Linked DNA regions of Homo sapiens: region 2 is linked to region 1. Evidence: fine-mapped expression QTL. A gene starts in region 1. The other region holds a variant in brackets. All regions are shown on one strand. Distances are between the middles of the regions.

Region 1 (2,899 bases):
CTGGCCCTAGAGAAGTGGACTGGGAACGGAGGAAGAGCTCTGGACTGGGCCTCCTCTCAGGGCTCTCTGAGACCGGGGGAGGGCTGAGGGCCTCTTCTTGTCTGGGGCGGAGGGGAGGCCACCTCCAGCAGGAACGCAGAGCGGGTTTCCAGAGCACAGGTAGCACTGATCAGCTAGAACTGAAAAGGGCATTGCTGAGTAGAAGCACCTCTTCCCTCCTACCTTGCGGTTTCCCCATGACCCGCCCTAACCCTCATAAAAGGATCTCTGCTGCAAGAGCCTCCCAACCCAGGGCCTTCCCTGCCACCCCCGGCTCACACCACCGCCCACCGCAGGCACACTTAGTCCTGTCCACGCCAGACACTCAATTTCCTGTCCCTGGCTTGTGGAAGGGCCTAGCCGCCTTTCCATCCCTGGTAACCGGTTTCTCTCTGTCATCTCTTCTTTCTCAGTCCCCGACTTCCTCACCTAAATTCCCTCCAGGCCCAGTCCTTAGAAGCTGTAAATAAAATGTGCCGGAAAGAAATCAGGACCATCGTGGGGGATTCCTGAGCCTTCCTTCTGTTTACTTCCTTTTTCCACCAAACCCTTGGAGGCTCGGGCTCCGATCCGGCCCCCTTCCCACGCTCGGGGCGCTGTCTTCCCCCCCGGAAGCCTGGCCCTGCCCCTGCGTTTACCTGTGCGGGAACTCGGCCACCGCGTGCTCCGGGACGGTCCCCGCGCGGGCTGGGGCGGGAGAGCTCGGCGCGCCCGAGGGCTGCTCCCCGCAGAGCCGCGCCGCCCCGGCAGCGCCTCGGGGCCCGGCCGGAGCGCGATCTCCCGCCGTCAGGCCCGGGATCCGACCGGGAGAGGCGCAGGGCTGCCCCTCAGCATCCGCGGGCGCCCGGCCGCAGGGGGAAGGAGGAGGCGGCGACGAGGGCTGGGAGATCCGTGGGCGCCGGCCCAGCGCGCCCGCCCTGGGGCTGAGGCTCAGGGGCAGGGGCCGTGCGGGGGCCGGCAGGCGCGGGCGGCGGCGAGCGCGGCTCTCCGGACCCCTCCCCTGCACCCGCGGCGGCGGCGGCTGCTAGGGGCGCGCGCGGGGCCCTCCCCGGCGGGAGCGCGGGCCGAGCCCGGGGAAGCCCGCCAGCATCCTCTCGCCCGCCCGCGCCGAGCCGAGCCAGCCGAGTCCGGGCTCGGCGTGCTGCACAGCTATTCCCCGCGCGGCGCCGGCGGCTCCGGGGCCACGCGCGCTCCAGGCCCCGGGAGGCGGGAGGCGGGAGGCGGGAGGCGGGCGGGGCGGCCCCTCCCTCGCCCCAGTCTCCGCCCTCTCGGCGGCGCGTTCCGGAGTGGGGCGGCGAGGGAGGCGCCGGGCGGCGGTCCCAGGACCCGCGCGGGCGAGAGGTGGAGGGGCCCGGGCGGCCCCCGATCCGGCGCGGGCGGCGGGCTGGGGCGATGGCTGCGTGGAAGCGCGGGCGCGGGCGCGGGCGTGGGCGGTGGGCGGTGGGCGGCAGGGCTGGGGCGAATCCACCCCTTCCAGCGAGGAGGCCCGGTCTAGGAGGATGGAAGCCCGGGACGCGCCCGCCCGCAGGTGAGGCGCGCTCGGGGCACCCCGCCGCCCCCTCCTCCGCCGCGGCTTCCTTCCGGGCCGGCAGAGGCCAGGGCTCAGGTTTGGGGACCGCTCCGCCGCGGGGCACGTGGGGCCTAAGTATCCCCGCCCACCCCGGGAGCCCAGACTCCGGAGCGCCGGGCCTGAGCTTTCCGCAGAGGGGCTCGGCAGCGGAGCCCTGTCCTGCTCCCAGGAGGCGGGTGGCGGTGGCCCGGTGGGCACTACACACGTGGAACTGGAAGAGTTCCTGAGACCCTGCTTCGAAGAGATTTCCCGTGCACATTCTACCCGTTTGAGATGTGTTTGAGTTCACAAACTGTCCCTTAAAGATGCGAATGCTCCTTTGAATAGTTAAACCTATCAGTCTCTTACACCATAGTATAAATTATTTTCCTTGCATTTGACAGAACACCGTGCTAAGATCAACTACAGGCTTTGGGAATTTAAATAAAGGAAGAGGAAAGAGATAGAATGTTTTGGGACAAAAGGGACAAAAGCATGTGTGGGAAGGTAAGTGCTGAGGACAGCCAGCAGCAATAGGGGGTCATCTCCCCTGGGGAGAGCTGAAGGAATGAACAGAGGGGAGAGAAACTTGGCTATCCAGACCCTGGATGGAGCTGCCACCCCATGCCCCTGAGAGTTATCCGCGGGCACCCCTTCCAGAACCTCAGGCATCACCTTGCATCCCTCGGGGAATGGATCCATTAGAGAATCGATCCTGCCACTGCTGTTTCTACCGTTCCCTCACACTCTGTCTGAAAAGGCGCCACCTTCAGCCCATACTTCGCAGGGCTTTGATTCCAAAGGTAGGGGACCTAACATCAGATATAGGAGTTTGGTAATTTAAATAAAGCAAAACTTTGCCCCATTGTTTTATTTTATTTCTATTTTTTATTTTTTCGAGACTGAGTCTCACTCTGTCACCCAGGCTGGAGTGCAGTGTTGTGATCTCAGCTCACTGCAACCTCCACCACCCAGGTTCACGCAATTCTCCTGCCTCAGCCTCCTGAATACCTGGGATTGCAGGCACACACCACCAAGCCCGGGGTAATTTTTGTATTTTTAGTAGATGGGGTTTCACTATGTTGGCTAGGCTGGTCTTGAACTCCTGACCTCAAGTGATCCGCCCACCTCAGCCTCCCAAAGTGCTGGGATTACAGGGATGAGCCACTGCTCTGGGCTGCCCCATTGTTTTAATTTGCTGGAGGTTTTTGGGTTTTGGGGGGGATTTTTTTTGGAGGGAGTTATTTGTGGTTTGTTTTTTGTTTTTGTTTTTTAAAAAGGAAGGCATTTATTTATTTATTTATGAGACAG
Region 2 (2,899 bases), 60 kb before region 1:
GAACCAACAGAAGGACCAGTGCCTACTTCGCATTATGGGGAACGCACCTGGCTTTTCTCACACTGAGAGGCATTCGAGGCTAAAAGAAAAACTAAAAATATTAGATATCTTTGTGGGTGGTTCTGTGAAGAAGATAGCGAGTACAATGCAAGGCTGATGCTGGGGGTGGGGACGTGTCTGTGTGTCTCCTGTGAAGCAGACAATGGATTTGACCCATTACATTAGACGCGGAGAATGCCATGATGCAGCCACGGTGCAACGAGCAAGACGCAGAGCAGCTATGGATCCACAGGCAGAGGCACAGCCCTCCCACTCGACACCAGCTTCGTCTCCTCTTCCCACTCTTAGTGGTCCCCCTGCCCCGACCTCACTGTTGCCAGGATAACAGTGGCATGGTGGGGCTTGGCACTAGAAGCCCAACCCCAGGCCAAGAGGCAACTGGCCTCTGGCTCTGACTCCCCTCTCCCCTACCAAGCGCCTATAAGAACAGGGCTCAGGGTTGATGACACCTTGTCCTAATAGCAAAAGGTCTTGGGGGAAACAGTGACCAGGCTTGGGCAAAGGTTACAGAGGAAGAACATTCAGAAAAGCAAGAGATACAATCCAAGCTTAGGAAATGGCAGCCTCCCAGTGTCCCAAGCTCCGGGGCTCCCAGGAGAGGGGCCTGACGCTTGTGGTCAATGGGCGGTTCTTCCCTGTAAGACCGGCATGAAGGAAAAACACCATCCCTAGTAACAGGTGACCCTGCACGTGGGTTAAAGCAGAAGGAGAGGTGGGGAGAGGCAGCTGTGTCTCTGTGCAGTCCCCCAAGACCTGAATGGAAACCCACCCAGCGTCCACCTCAGCTGTCTCCCCAGGATCCCAAGGGTGAAGATGGGGATGGCTTTCTACCCTAGACCCTGTGCAGTCTGCCCTGGGCTCTCCCTCTACGTGCCCTGGCTGCAGCATCCTCCTGTCTGAGGGTGGGCACTGTGGACAGTCCTCACCTCCGAGGGAGGACCAGGCACAGGGCCAGTTAACCACACAGGACGCGTGTGAAGGAAGCATAGGCCTGCCCCTGTCATCCCTCCATCTTCCCACATCCTCCGTCAACCATGTTCCGATCCCTGGGAAGTGATTCTGAGTATGATTCAGAGAGGCTCAGTTTTGTAGCTCCACCTGGCAGCAGGTGTGTGCTGAGTGGGTTTTCTGGGTGCCGCCTGTTGCCAGGTGGCGGCTGGGGTGCTTAGCAACCCTCAAGGTCCCCAACTAACCCCTGAAGTGTGGTCACATGGGAATAAAGACAAACAACTCCAGTTCTGTCCTCTGGGCCTCCTGCTCTACCCTCACATGCCCACAGAGCCGGGAGGCTGGACCAAGGTCAGCATGCACCCTGGCGGCCCCGCACCACAGGGAAGCGCCATGGCACTGCCTGCGAAGCCAGATATGTG[T/C]TCGGCAGAGGCAAAGAGGACGCTTCGCATGCCAGGGCTGCACCAAGAGCTCCAAATCCACAAGGCCTCAGGGCAGGGCAGGCTCCACTACCTCCCTGAAGGAGACTGGAGCCAGGGAGGTTAAAGCAGCAAAGCCACTGGAATCTGAGACCCTTGCCATTACCCAAATGCTCTGTTGCCTCAATGCACCCTTTGACATGTGGACATGCTCACCCCAGTGAGGAGGCAGAAAGGGATGCCTGTGCTTGAGGGACTGTGCCGCCTCACCCTCCTGGACCATGGCTGGCTGCCCACCCATCTGGGAGTTGACTGTCATTAGGAGGCTGGTCATCTTCATAACAGAAGGTACAACTTCCCAGGGGATGGCAAGAGAGAGAGCGGGCTCAGGTCACCAGCGCATCCCTACACCTCACTTCACAGCAGAGGAGGAAGCTGAGGCCCAGCGAGGAGACACCTGCTGGGACAGCCACATGGCCAGGGCTGCCCTTCAGCCGCACACTCTTAAGGCAGCTTAGAAAACAAGATAAATAGCCGAGCATGGGGCTCACGACTGCAATCCCAGCACTTTGGGAGGCCAAGGCAGGCAGATCACTTGAGATCAGGAGTTTGAGACCAGCTTGGCCAACATGGTGAAACCCCGTCTGTACTAGAAATACAAAAATTAGCTGTGTGTGGTGGTGGGCACCTGTAGTCCCAGCTACACGGGAGGCTCAGGCAGGAGAATCGCTTGAACCTGGGAGGTGGAGGTTGTAGTGAGCCAAGATCGTGCCACTGCACTCCAGCCTGGGCGAAAGAGTGAGACTCCATCTCAAAAAAAAAAAAAAAAAAAGATAAGAGCACCTGACCAAATAAAAAGTGAGACATGGACCCTGGGCACTCAATTCTGGAAGGAGGCCCCTTTTTTGCAGAGGGTAGATTAACGATTGTTTTTATAGGAGACACTCATAATTTTTTTAAATGGAGAATTTTCTTAAAAAAGACATTAAGCACACATGTAAGTAAGGGATGGCCTGCTCTGACACTGACCTCAAATGGCTCTTTGGAGCCACTTCCAAACCAGGTTCTGTTTCCTCTCATACCAGGACTGTCTGCGGCCCTTTCCAAAGTGTTTTTCCATCTATTATCTCATTTTTATTCTCATGAGGAGCTTTTACAGGAGGAAAGTGAAACGGGGTCATGCAGCCTCTAGTACCGGCCTGCACTCAGCTCCGAAGACCCGTCAGCTGATGTTTCTGAAACGTCAAATCAGCCCAGAGCCCACGCCACTCCCAACGTCAGCCCCAATGCCTTGGGAGGGAGTGACCTCTGTCCTGGCTGGAAGAGAGAAGGGGAAGGATGCACAGGCCCCAGCCAGCTCCCATCCTACCTCACCACCCTGACTTCAGCCGGTGCCTCCCCAGGGGCTGGGGGCCAGCGTGACGGCATCTTGGAGCCCCAAAGGGCTTCATGGTTTTTAGACTCCCCTCTGC

Alleles and levels. Positions count from the first base shown, and alleles are read on the strand shown. Sizes are in standard deviations (SD) of each study's normalised expression.
In carriers of allele C in region 2, the expression in tibial artery of the gene that starts at base 1,232 in region 1 tends to be higher than with T alone (small effect, 0.37 SD a copy in GTEx).

The links. PIP is the estimated chance that this variant, and not a neighbour inherited with it, causes the effect.
Region 2: its variant is fine-mapped to the expression of ADCY3 in tibial artery (GTEx, PIP above 0.99). The same link has a PIP of 0.9 or more in whole blood.

Annotation. Positions count from the first base shown.
Region 1 is chr2:24,919,006-24,921,904 of GRCh38, forward strand. It overlaps ADCY3 (adenylate cyclase 3), which reads right to left and starts at 1,232. Exons shown (of 22, transcript NM_004036.5): 1 at 678-1,232; 2 at 1-179. It overlaps LOC124907742 (a long non-coding RNA gene), which reads left to right and starts at 1,339. Exons shown (of 2, transcript XR_007086246.1): 1 at 1,339-1,567; 2 at 1,993-2,453. RefSeq lists silencers at 617-1,346, 1,377-1,436, 1,477-1,686, 1,697-1,786.
Region 2 is chr2:24,859,011-24,861,909 of GRCh38, forward strand. The region is part of intron 3 of ADCY3 (adenylate cyclase 3); the gene reads right to left. Among named protein-coding and RNA genes, the nearest start is that of ADCY3, 60 kb to the right of the region's middle. The variant T/C (reference allele first, on the strand shown) is at 1,431.